Linked DNA regions of Homo sapiens. The protein of the gene in region 1 purifies or fractionates together with the protein of each later gene. This does not show direct contact. Each region holds a gene or a part of one and is shown on either strand. Other genes may lie near its edges.

Region 1 (6,935 bases):
GAAAGGATAGGAGTAGAGGGAGTAGGGGGTGGTAAGATCCCTGGGAATGAGGGATGGGAAAAACTGAGAGTGGGGAGGTAGATAGATGAGTGACACCGGGCCAGGCCTGGGGGCTCACGCCTGTAATCCCAGCACTTTGGAAGGCTAAGGCGGGTGAATCACAAGGTCAGGAGTTCGAGAACAACCTGGCCAACATAGTGAAACCCCATCTCTACTAAAAATATAAAAATTAACTGGATGTGGTGGCACGTGCCTGTACTTGGGAGGCTGAGGCGAGAGAATCACTTGAACCTGGGAGGCGGAGGTTGCAGTGAGCCGAGACCATGCCATTGCACTCCAGCCTGGGTGACAAAGTGAGACTGTGTCTCAAAAAAAAAAAAAGAGTGACACCTTCCCCATACTTTCCCTTGATTTACAGGCAGACTTTGAATGTTGCTATGTGGGCTTGGATTATCTCTTTAAACATTAGCCAGCCACAGTCATCTCCATCTCCCAAAGTTACCTTCTAACTCCCAGTTGCTGAGAACTGAGCCGTCTTTTGCCCCTCCTCAAAAATTATACACTTGGGATGACCGTGTCTACTAACATTCTTTCCTTTCTCTTGCAAGCCTCTTGCTAAGATCTCAACTAGCCTGGAAGATATTAGGGGCTGAAACAAAGCAGGAAAGGGTACAGAACAGAATGGCTCTCAAGATTCCAGCAGACATCAGAGGGCTAAAGGCAGACACCATGTTCATGGTCTGAGGAAAAGGGCAGACAGAGGCAAAAATCAATGCCTTTCCAAAGTAATGCATTCCACCCGTATTTTCACCTAGTTTTCCCAGACTTATTAAAATTTATCTGCATCTTTGAAGGTTTTGCCCCAAATTAATCAACTTAAACATCTATGCTATGCCAGGCAATGGGCAAGGTTTCTCTCTCTACACTTCCGCTCTGGTTCACTCACCTCATAGTGATTAGAGAGCCCACAGAGGCAGGACCCTTGCTCTCGACAACTGCTGAAATCCCAGCCATACTGGCACTTTGCGCCCAGGCGGCTCCCATTCTGCACACCCATGTCAGTCCTATTTTCGGAAGCACGTTGAATCATACAGGAGCCTAGAAATGAGATTGAGGATACACATTTCTTCATGGGAAGAAAACCCCATCCCAAAGCAGTAGGGCTATCTAGGTACCACCAGTACCAAAAGGGGAAATGAAAATGTTTGTGTGGCAGGGGTTGGGGGAGTGAGGAAATGACCAAATGTGATCATCGAAGAACACCATACAATTCATTAACAGATATGAGGGATGGGGAAACATGAAGGGAGGAGCGGGAGTCACTACAGACTCACCAGCCTTGATTTTGCCGTTGCTGGAGATGGCTGAGATAGACAATCCAGTGACAGTATGACTGAGGCCAAGAACAGGATGATGAGCCATGTGAGCCCTGGGGTGAGGATGGGAATTTATTCATACATGCACATCCCTTCCTACTGCCCAGGAGAGCTCTGAGCTCATACCTGTGCCTGCCTGAGCAGCGATCCAAGGCAGCTGCAGGTAGAGAATGATGCCCCAGATATTGAGCATACAGCAAATCTGGGGAGCGGGGTGGTAAGGGAGGGGTTGCAGTCTCCAGTGTGAGTCCCACCCCTTGCCCCCTTCTTCAGAGGTACCTCCCAAAAACTCCCCTGGAGCAAAGAGTTCTCGCCTGCCTAGATCCCCAGACTTAGGGAACCATGAGCGCCAATCCATTACCATGACTCCTATGACCCAGCTGAAGTGCACTGGGGCCTTGCCGATTTTGGCCCCAGAATTCTCCAGATCATCTTGGGAGTGTGGCTGGGTGTGGGTTTCCTCTCGAGGTGGACGTGGCACTATTTCTTGGCTGGGACAGCACATACATAACTGAAATGCCAAGACCCCTTGCTAGCCAGCGCGTCTGCAACCAGGAGGACAGCTAATGGACCTGGAGGGCAGTCCCAGAGCTACATGAAGGGTGGTGGTAGCCCACAGGCAGATGTTATCCTACCTTCAGGAGTTCACTGTGGGGCCTGGGTCTTACCAAGCTGTATGGAGCCATCCCAGGACTACGGAGTTGGCATAGAACTCGTAGCAGGGTCCAGTGTCCTCATCCTTGTAAGCAGTTGGTGAACAGAGGCTGGCTCGGGGTATGTCTCCACCAGATTGCAGTTCCTCCAACTCCTGGTTGGGGGCCAAGATGCTGGCCACATTGTCTTGCTCTGGGGAGGACATGAGAGGCATTCGAAATGTCTGAACTGGGAAACAGGGTGCAGAGCCTGGACACTATCTCCCCATTTGCTGGCCAGGATAACCATAAACTGCCTCTCAGTCGAACCATTTTGGGGAGTGCACCTGCTGGCTAGGCTCACCCAGGGAATGCTAGCTACTCAGAGTTGCCAGGGGTACCCAGGCCACAAATGGGGAAATGGAGACAACTCTGAAAGTAGGAGGGGGTGCTGTGCAGGTCAGCCCACTTCCCACCCTACCCCGCCCTCCACATGAGCCCTTTCATCTGAATCACAAGGAGCAATCGTTCCTCCTTCCCTTATTAAGTCTGCCTGTGGAGTCAACCTATCCAGCCTGGACCAGACATTTTATAGGCCAGGAAGTAGGAGTCCTTGGCCTGTCCTACCTCCCCCAGAGAAGGGAGAGGAAGTGTGTCACTGCACCTTTCCCTAAATCCTTTCTGCAAGATGACACTCAAAACTGCGGCACAAAGTGATTGCCTGGCTTTTAGGGGCTTTAGTCTAGCACTTGGCCTCAGGATGAGAAAGGAAGTGTTGTCCTGGAGGGAGAAGGAGTGGCTGTTACCGTCTGGCTCAAATGGAATACTTGCATGTCCATAGCCCATCTAGTCCAGGACTCTGGTCCTCACAGCATGCAGATCAAGCACACCTTCCACTGTCTGGTTCTTATCCCAGTGCCAAGATGAGAGTTAGAATTCCCCACACTTTTCCAAAGACACAGGGTTGGATTTCAGGCTCTTACCCTGGACCCCACCTCTGGACAGATAGTAATCCCTGTGTGGGGTGAGCCACCTAGGTCCGTAGCCCTGCCCCCTGGCCCTTCACTTTCCCCACTCTTCTGCCCTCCATGAATAAAGCTGGGCTATATTCGCTCCTGGGTCCCAGCTTTTTTGTTTTTTGAGACAGGGTTTTGCTCTGTCACCCAAGCTGGAGTGTGTGGTGCGACCTCAGCTCACTGCAACCTCTGCCTCCTGGGCTCAAGTGATCCTCCCACCTCAGCCTCCTAAGAAGCTGGGACTAAAGATGTGCCCCACCATGCCTGGCTCATTTTTGTATTTTTTTGTAGAGATGGGGTTTCACCATGTTGCCCAGTTTGGTCTCAAACTGCTGGCCTCAAGTGATCCATCCGCCTTGGCCTCCCACAGTGCTATGACTACAGGCATGAGACACCACGTCCAGCTAATTTTTGTAATTTTTGGTAGATATAAAAAATATGGAGTTTCATCATATTACCCAGGCTGGTCTCAAATTCCTGGGCTCCAGTGACTCACCCACCTTGGCCTCCCAAAGTGCTAGGATTACAGGCAAGAACCACCATGCCCGGCGGGGTCCCAGCTTTATCATGCACAGAAAAGTCAACAGCCAAAGCCTGGTCCAGACTCTTTGCCTGATCCTTCCAGCCCACTCTAGTGGCCCAGCCCTTCTGGCCTTGGGCTCATTCCACCAGATCCCCTCATTCTCCTTGGTTTCCTAATTTGCCTAGCTCAGCACACTCCTGTATGACCTACAGGTGGAAGGGTGGGGATGTCAGTCTGGGAGGGAGCCCAGGGGATTGGGTGTCAGAGTTAGGACACCAGGTGCCAAGTGCCTAGCCAGCCAGGACTGGCTATAATTAGCCCCATGGGGCCACTGGCTGACTGGGATGCCATGTGGGCAAGTTCCCTCTGCCACGCAGCCCCAAGCACAGCGGGCGCTTAAGTGAGAGGGCAAGCGGAACGCTGGTGTCTCCTGAGGGTGACTAAAAGGATGGGGGCAATAGGGGAGGGGTGTGGTCCCGGTTACCGGATCTTTACAGGGCTTCTTGCATGTTTCACTGCACCGCGTGCACCCTATAGCTGTCCTGTATATCCCAGATACTCCAGTGCTGGGATGTGGCTGAGGGTAGGAGGAGGGTGTTGGAGCAGGGGAGAGACTGACATTTCAACTGGCTGGAGACATGGTTGCTCTGGCCTCTTTGGGCCCAGCTCTGACGCCAGGCTGTCTTGCCTCTGCTCACCTGCAGCTATCCAGCAAACCTCGGCATGAGCGTCTCGGACACCCCACATTATCCCCCTGAGCTGGAGAGTGTCTCTCATCCCGTCCAGAGGGACTGCCTTGGACTCCTTGTGCACGCCCAGAGAACCCCTTCCTGGCCTCCCTCCCCCGACGAGGATCCCAGATTGCCTTCCTTTCCTCTGGAGGAGCCTGGTTCCAGGCCCCTGGTCCCAAGGAACCTTCCCTTTCCAGCCTTGTCCCTAGAGGAAGAAGAGGAAGAGGAAGAAGATGAAGATGCGGCAGAGCCCGAGTGGCTGCGCAGCGAGGAGCATCCGAGCCAGTTTTTCGCCGAGGCCCAGCGGCTGCGGGAGCAGAGACTGTTGCTGGACGAAGAGGTGTCAGTCGCGGGGCGGGTATACGGGGTGCATCGGGTGATCCTGGCCGCAATCAGCAGCCTCTTCCGAGACAGGCTGCTGGGCGGCGGAGGTCCGCGGCCCCCCTTCAGCCTCGAGGTGTCCCCAGGGGGCTGGGAGGCCGTGCTGACCTTTGCCTATGAGGGGGTGCTGGGCCCCGCCTCGCAGGGGGATGTGCTGGCCGCAGCAGAGGCGCTGGGAGCGCCCCGGGTGAAGGCTGCTGCCCAGCAGACATGCGAGAGGGCTGGAAATGCCAGGGAAGATGTAAAGAAGCCCAGCCAGGCAGAGGAGCTGAGGGAGAACCTGCGCGGAATCGAGCTCCTCTACCGAGAGGGCGTCGGGTGTGACTTGAAGCTGGAGGCAGGCGGCTGCCAGCTGTCGGGTGAGGGCCTGTGGGGCATTAAATTACTGCAGGTGCATATGCTAACGGAATGGTGTGTGCAAGCAGCAGGTGGTTTTATCCCCACCATGATGGTTTTGATCCCTGCTGCTGTCAGAATTTCCCTGGGGTGGCCTTTGGTGCCTCTCCTGCCCCACGGAGAGCCGGGCATGCGCAGTCGAGTTGTTTTCTAGGCGCTCTGACAGATTTAAACTGACCCTCTGTCTGGCTTTTCCTGTGTCCAGTAACAAGGAATCTCCAGCCAGCTGGCTAGAGCTAAGGGTACAATCCATGGCAGTAGAACAAGCAGAAAGTGGATTGACTCAAGCAGAAATTAACAAAAGGCCCTTCTTGGCATCCTCCATTCAGGACACAGGAAAGCCAGGGGAACATGGTGGAAAACTCAATGTGTGCTTTCACCTTGGTGTGCTTGACGCCATGGCTGACTTATGGGCCCTGCAGCTAATGAGCAAGGTCTGGTACTGTTTAAGGTTACCAGGCCGTGGCACTTTTTTTTTTTTTTTCTGAGACAGCATCTCACTCTGTTGCCCAGGCTGGAGTGCAGTGGCACAATCTTGGCTCACTGCAACCTGCACCTCCTGGGTTCAAGTGATTGTCCTGCCTCAGCCTCCCGAGTAGCTGGGATTACAGGCACCTGCCACCATGCCTGGCTAATTTTTTTGGTATTTTTTTAGTAGAGATGGGGTTTCACCAGGTTGGCCAGGCTTGTCTTGAACTCTTAACCTCAGGTGATCCACCTGTCTCATGCTGGGATTACAGGCATGAGTCACTGCACCCGGCCTGGCCATGGCACTTTGAAGTTAACTCTGCTCATCACCAGGAAAGCTAAGTAGGGTTGCATAAGTTGAGTATTATTCGGAGTCTACTAACATTTAGTGAGGCACTGGGTACCTGAAATTTTTACACATGACATCTCTTTTTAAATTTTACTGAAAGCTGGTGAGGTCAATATCATTATCTACAGGTGCACATAAGGAACATTAAATTTGGAGATGTTGACTTGGGACAACCCCAGGATACAAGCCTACATCACTAGTCCAGTCTCCTTCCACTAGGCCATGTGGACACATTGAAAGTTTAAAATTACAAGGGATTAGTTTAGAGATTATCTAGTTGGGCTGTTACACTTTGATGATGACGAAATCAGAATCCAAGACTTGTCCAAAGTCACATAGCTACTGCCCATTAGAGGAGTGACTGGGAACTGAAGTGCTTCTGGGACTCCTAGAAGGAAAACCACTCCAAAAGTCTATTTTCATTTATGATAGCACTAGATGGAGAGGGGATTTAAATTTTTCATAATCATAAAATTCTCACTAGGCTTTTGAATTTAAGCATACTCATATCACTGCTTTTATTTCCCTAGGAAATATTCCTACTTAATGGTTGCGAATCTGTCACTTAAAATCCTAGGGTATAGTAATGAGTAAGAGGTGAATACAAGTGGCTGTGAGCCCTTTCAGGGTTGGCTCTGAACTATAGGTTGATTGATGATATGGGAGCTGAGATGGCTTAGCTTGTTTTGAGGAATGCAGATTTTCTCAGACAATATATATTTGAAATCTGTCATTGATGTTTACTACTTGGGAAGCACCAGGCCACTACCTACTGCTTAAAAGACAGTGGAAAGTCATATGAACAACACCTGCCCTTTGGGAAAGGCACGCATGCCTCAGTTGGTCAAAGCAGCATGGAGTTCTTAAACAGCTTGGCCCTCTGTGACCTGCCTAAAAGGACTTCTAGGAGCATTACCCCCCACCTTTTTATTATGAAGCATTTTACAAAACCAAGAATATTAAGATGAACATTCAAACAACACCCATCACCCAGATTTAACAACTAATATTTTACTATATTTATTTCATCTGTTCATTTTATTTTTTACTGAAGTTTAAAGGA
Region 2 (7,027 bases), on another chromosome or scaffold:
GAATTGCCTTTTCTCGTGTATAAAAAATCAGTTTTTCATATTTGTGTGGTTCTATTTCTGTGCTCTTTTTTCTGTCCTACTGATGCATTTGTCTATTTTAATGTTAATATCATACTGTCCTGACGACTGTAGCTTTATAATAAATCTTGAAATCAGTATTGTTAACTCTCATTTTTTTTTTAAGTTATTTTGGTCATTCTAAGTCTTTGGCATTTCCATATGACTTCCATATGAATTTTAGAATCAGCTTGTCAATTTCTACCAAAAAGACTGCTGCTGGGATTTTGATCAGAACTTTTTTTTTTAGAAAGGATCTTACTCTGTCACTCAGGCTGGAGTGCAGTGGTGTGATCATGGCTCACTGCAGACTTGACCTGCTGAGCTCAAGTGACTCTCCCACCTTAGCTTCCCAAGTAGCTGGAACCACAAGCATGCACTACCATGCCTGGTTAATTTTTTTTTATTTTCTGTAGAGACAACGTCTCATTATGTTGTTACCCAGGCTGGTCTCAAACTCCTGGGCTCAAGCGATCCTCCCGCCTTGGCCTCCCAAAGTGCGTGGATTACAGGTGTGAGCCATTACACCCTGCTTGATTGGAATTTTATTAAATCTGTAGACCAATTTGGAGATAGTTGATATTTTAATAATGAGCCTTCTAACTCATGAATATCATCTTATCTATTTGAGTCTTCTTGAATTTATCTCAGCAATATTTCATAGATCTTAGTATATGAGCCTCACATACTTTTTTCCATATTTATCTCTATATATTTTATGTATTTTGTTGCTATTGTATATGCTATTTTTAAAATTTCCATTTCTGATTGTTAGTTGCTAATATATAGAAATATATTTTATTTTTGTACATTGATCTTGAATTCTGCAACCTTGCTAAATCACAATTAGCTTTCTTATAGGCTTCATTGAATTATCTATATAAGTGATTACATTGTCTGCTATACAGTTATACTTTTTGCTCTCCAATATGGATATTTTAAAATTTTCTCCCTTATTTCATGGGCCAGAACCTCCAGTATAATGTTGACTAGAAATAATGAGAATGGACATCCTTTCCTCATCGCTGATCTTAGGGGGAAAGCATTCAATCTTTCTCCATTATGTATGATGTTAGCTATAGGTTTTTATCAGGTTGAGGAAGTTCTCCCTTCTGCACCTAGTTTGCTGACAGTTTTTAATCAAGAATAAATGCCAGGCTGGTCGTGGTGGCTCACACCTGTAATTCCAGCATTTTGGGAGGCTGACGTGCATGGGTCACCTGAGGTCAGGAGTTCAAGACCAGCTTGGCCAACATGGTGAAACTGTCTCTACTAAAAATAAAAAAATTAGCTGGGCATGGTGGCAGGCACCTGCAATCTCAGCTTCTCGTGAGGCTGAGGCAGGAGAATTGCTTGAACCTGGGAGGTGGAGGTTGTAGTGAGCCGAGATCGTGCCACTGGACTTTAGCCTGGGCGACAAGAGTAAAACTTCTTGTTGTTGTTGTTTTTTGTCAAAACACACACACACACACACACACACGAGAATAAATGCCAAATGCTTCTTGTGCATCTATTGAGATGATCATATGATTTTTTTTTTTTTCTTTTGAGATGAAGTCTCACTTCGTTGCCCAGGCTGGAGTGCCATGGCGCAATCCTGGCTCACTGCAACCTCTGCTTCCCAGGTTCAAGCGAATCTCCTACATCAGCCTCCTGAGTAGGTGGGATTACAGGCATGCACCACCATGCCAGGGTAATTTTGGTATGTTTCAGTAGAGATGGAGTTTCACCATGTTGGCCTGGCTGGTCTCGAACTCCTGACCTCAGGTGATCTGCTTGCCTTGGCCTCCCAAAGGTCTGGGATTACAAGCCTGAGCCACTGCACCCAGCCCTCGTTTAGTTTTCTCGTACAGTAAATTACATTGATTGATTCAAATGTCAAACCTTACATTCTTGGGATAAACCATACTTAGTTATAATGCATTTTACTTTTTAAAAAATTAATGGATTACATTTTTTTAAAATTATTTTTTAAATTGTGATAAATATACATAACATAAAATTTACAGTTTAACAATTTTTAAGTGTACAGTTCAGTGTTAGTAAGTGCATTCACAATGTTGTCTAACCATTATCACCACCCATCTCCAGAACTTTTTTTCCTTGCAAAACTGAAACTCTGAACCCATTAAACAATATCTCTCCATTCCCTACCCACCTCCCCAGCCCTGGGTAACCACCATTCTACTTTCTGTCTCTATGAGTTTACTCTATGTATCTCATATAATTGGAATCATACAGTTTTTGTCCTTTGTCTGGCTTATTTCACTTTGCATAGTGTCATCAAGGCTCATTCATGTTGTAGCATGTGCCAGAATTTCCTTCCTTTTTACCATTGAATAATATTCTATTGTATGTATATACCACATTTTATTTGTCTATTATTGGAAACGTGTTGCATTTACCTTTTGGCTATTGTGAATAATGGTACTATGTGTATTCTCCTTTTTATGTATTATTTGATTTAATTGGCTAAAATTTTGTTAAGAATTTTTACATATGTATTCATAAGGGGTATTGGTCTGTGTATATTTTTTCTTGTAATGCTTTTATCTTTTTTGGTGTTAGAACAATGCTGTACTCATAGAGTGAATTGGAAAGTTTTTCTTCTTGTTCAAATTTCTGAAAGTGTAAAGTTGTTGTGGAGAATTGGTATTATTTGTATTATTTCTTTCTTAAATGTTGGTAGACTGTCAATAAAGCCATCTGAGCCTGGAGTTTTCTTTGTGGGAAAGCTTTTAATGACACATTCAATTTTTTTAATAGACGTAGGGCTATAAAGGTTTTGTTTTTTTTGAGTGAGCTTTAGTGGTTTGTAGTCTTTCAAGAATTTGTCCACTTCATCTAAGTTAGGATCATCAACTACTATCTATGAGCTAAATCTGATTTGCTGCCTGTTTTGGTAAATAAAGTTTTGTTGGAATGTGGCCATACTCATTTGTCTATATATTGTCTGTGGCTATTTTTGTGTTACAGTGGCAGAGTTGAATAGTTGGAAAAGAAATGGTATGGCCTGAAAAATATTAACTGGCCTTTTGCAGAAAGTTTACTAACTTCTGATCAACAGTTTCAACTTTATTGTCATAAAGTCGATCATAATATTCATTTGTTATTCTTTTTAATATCTGTAGAATCTGTAGTGATATAAATTTTCTCATTTCTGACATTTGTCATTTGACTAATTTCCACTTTCATCCTAATTATTTCCTTTCTTTTGCTTATATTAGGTTTCATTTGTGCTTCCTTTTTTAGTTTTTTTTTTTTTTTTTTCTTTTTGAAACAGAGTCTCGATCTGTCACCTAGGCTGGAGTGCAGTGGCATGGTCACGGCTCACTGCAGCCTTGACTTCCCAGGCTCAGGCAGTCCTCCCACCTTAGCCTCCTAAGTAGCTGGGATTACAGGTGTGTGCCACCAAACCTGGCTAATTGTTGTGTTTTTTGTAGAGATGGGGTCTCACTGTGTTGCCCAGGCTGGTCTTGAATTTCCGGGCTCAAGTGATCTACCTGCCTTGGCCTCCCAAAGTGCTGGGATTATAGGAGCGAGCCACCAGACCCTGTCCTTTTCTAGTTTCTTAAGGTGGAAGCTGGGGTCATTAGTTTGAGAACTTTCTTCGTTCCTAATATAGGTGTTTCGTGATATAAATTTCTCTTTAAGTACTGCTTTAGGGATGCTAAAATTTTGATATGTTGTGTTTTCACAGAGAATGGGATCAGGGAAGTTTTCAAAGGTTCTAGTAATCTCTTTCTTAAGCTGGGTGGTAGGTACATGGATACATTTGTTTATTTGTGCATTTATTCTTTATATCATACATATAAATATTCTTTTGAGTATATTCTGTATTTAACAAGGAACTTTTAAAAAATGTGAATGGGAGGTAATGATGTAATCATCTGGTGGGTAAACAACTCTTTGAGCGGTTATGTTGTGAAGTGAAGCAGTGAAAGGGGGTAGTAATTTTAAAATGATGTGAGATAAAAGGGGAGATTGTTTTCGTATTGTTTTGTTTTAAAGCAAGTTTTCTGATTTAAATAAGAGTCATAAACTTTATGAAACCATACAAGTAGCAGATATAAAAGTGATATCCTGATGTGAAATTTGATGTGTTTAACCAAAACTCTTGCTTTAGAATAATACCACTTAAATTTTTTCTTAGATAGCAGTTTGAGTTCTGCTGCAGTACAAAAAACAAATACTTCATTGAGTTCCAAGAATTCCCTATCAAAAACTAGACAAATGATCTTGGTCTAAAGAATTTTCATGTCAGATATTGTAATCAGTTACCTGTCAATATAAATTATAAATACCTCTTAAAAGTAGTCATAAGGCCGGGTGTGGTGGCTCACACCTGTAATCCCAGCATTTTGGGAGACGGAGGTGGGTGGATCACTTGAAGTCAGGAGTTCAAGACCAGCCTGGCCAACGTGGTGAAACCCCATCTCTATTAAAAATACAAAAATTAGCTGGGTGTGGTGGTGCACGCCTGTAATTCCAGCTACTTAGAAGGCTGAGGTAGGAGGATCACTTGAACCTGGAAGGCAGAGGTTGGAGTGAGTCAAGATCATGCCACTACAGTACAGCCTGGGTGATGGAGTAAAACTCCATCTCAGAAAAAAAAAGTAGTTATAAAAGAGTAAGATGAAGGTAAAAATAAATTATTCTTGTTTACCAGAGGGTAAGGAGCAAAATAAGCTGTTTGCAGCCAGTTATCTGTACTATGCCTATTTATTTAATGACATATAACTTCAGGATGTTTCATAAGATAACTGAGTAATTACTAAGCTGTGCAATTTATTTGGTTTCTGTAGATAATAGAACATACTTAAATAGTGAATTGCTTTTCTGTCTCTCTCTCTCTTTTGGTCTTTATGGCATGTCTTGCCAATCATATTTTTTCTCTCCAATAGGTTGTATGGTTCCTGGAGCTGGTGCAATTGAAGTGGCAATGGCTGAAGCTCTTGTTACATATAAGAACAGTATAAAAGGAAGAGCTCGTCTTGGAGTCCAAGCTTTTGCTGATGCCTTACTCATTATTCCCAAGGTACAACTACCCTTTCGGCCAAATAACAACTGCTTAGACATAAAGGTGTTTAATTACAAATTGCCCATATTATCTGATAGTTAATGGAGTAGACAGGTATTTATGTGCATTTCCTTACACAGTTTTCTCTTAGATATTTTACAACTAAAGCAGGGAAACTTTTGCGATAACAGCCCAGGATCCTTGCACGATCTCATGAAATAGCCAACTTACCCCCTTGCTTCTTTCTCTGAGTTCCAAAAATTAAAGCAGCTCCAAAAATTTCCTTCAGAAATGACTCATGATTAACTAATCATAATGAAAAAGTTTAGAATTTAAAATTTAGTTAGATTTTGTGGTACATCTTTGTTTTGTTAGTGGTATCCAAATGTAATCAATTTAAATTGTGGAGAGGGAGGGCTTGAGGCTCTTTAGCACTCCTAGATACAACCTTACATTTGTCATCATCATTATAATTCCTAGAAAAAGAGAAAACAGAATTTTTCCATGTGGCAACCTAAGGACAGAAAGCGACCATTCCTTTGTCTTTGCCTTAATTGGTTTCAAACCACCTTAGAAATATAGTAAAACTACTTCAAAGATGCTATTACCATGAATTAAAACATTATTAACAATGTTAGCAAAATCTCTTTGCTAATTTTTATTAAAATTTTTCATAATTTGTGAAATCTTTGTGAATTAGATTTGCTATTTTTTCTTTCCCCAGAGCAGCAAAGTCAGTATGATCCTGCTGCTGACAGAAATTGGTAACCCCAGTACACATTACATTGGTGGTACCTTTTTCCTCATCAGCTGGTGATTTGGGGCCACTTGGAAGTGAGCCTGGTTTGGAGTGCAGGTATCTCCAACCCTGTTACCACAGGTCGTGACTCTCCTCATGAAGATGAGGGGCACAAAGGTGCTGCAAATATTCTGGTTTCCTTAGCAAGTGCCTATGAAGAACTGGAGGGCATGTGGCTAGCGGCACTAGAGGAAACAAGAATATCATTCTACTTCCTTCCATACTAAAAACAAAACAAAACAAAACAAACCTTTTGCAAGGAGGGAAATTAATGTAGTAGGGTAAAAATGGGGGAACTCTGATGTCCTCAGAATTTAGTGTGACGTGCATAGGGGAAATGTTTAAGTAAATATAAAAACTACTAGATAGATGAAATAATAATTTGATTTAGATTAAAAGTGGAATTCTTCAAAAGGAGATGATTGCCATGTTATGGATGTGTTTTTACAAGAGTAAAGAGTATTTTTATATTTGATATATGTGAAGGTATTATGCATATATATATAATATATATTATTATTTTTATTCCTAAAGGTTCTTGCTCAGAATGCTGGTTATGACCCACAGGAAACATTAGTAAAAGTTCAGGCTGAGCATGTCGAGTCAAAACAACTTGTGGGCGTAGATTTGAATACAGGTAAGAAAGTGAAGGAAAATTAGCTGCTTAATAAAGAGGTTATTCTTTAGTTACCCAGATCTTATGGTAAAGGAGTAGAGGTTTGGGTAACTTTAATATTTAAATTTTGGATGCCTTTAGTTTATTTTTGAGCTTCTTAAAAAATGTTCATTCATTTAAGAAATAGTTATTGAGTGCTTGTTTTCCTCTTGGGCTTCACACAGAACAAAACAGACAAAAATATCTGCCCCTGGGAGCTTATGTTGTAGTGGGAGAAGGTAGGCAGTAAATAATAACTTTAATAAATAAACTCCTTCAGCATTTTAGAAAAAGTAATGAATTATATGGAAAAAAGAGTGCTATAATAATGATCATGAATGCTAGTACAGGAGGGTGGAGAGAGAATGACAGCTTAAAGGGTTGGTCAGGGTAGGCATCATCTAGATGTCTGTTGAAAAAAAGTGGAAGGAAGTGAGGAAATTAGCCATGTAGGCAACTGGGGTTAAGTGTTCTAGGGAAAGAGAACAGCCAGTGG

Evidence for each region.
Region 2: the proteins of KLHL33 (region 1) and CCT6B purify together in Homo sapiens (affinity purification with mass spectrometry; 2 studies listed by BioGRID and IntAct, with this or other methods). This does not show direct contact.

Annotation. Positions count from the first base shown.
Region 1 is NC_000014.9:20,433,147-20,440,081, reverse strand, and holds the start of KLHL33 (kelch-like protein 33), read left to right. Parts: upstream 1-3,915; 5' UTR 3,916-3,983; exon of another isoform or gene 3,984-4,130; intron 4,131-4,251; 5' UTR 4,252-4,270; coding exon 4,271-5,018; intron 5,019-6,935.
Region 2 is NC_000017.11:34,930,435-34,937,461, reverse strand, and holds part of CCT6B (T-complex protein 1 subunit zeta-2), read left to right. Parts: intron 1-4,961; coding exon 4,962-5,095; intron 5,096-6,410; coding exon 6,411-6,513; intron 6,514-7,027. UniProt on the Homo sapiens protein: Component of the chaperonin-containing T-complex (TRiC), a molecular chaperone complex that assists the folding of proteins upon ATP hydrolysis.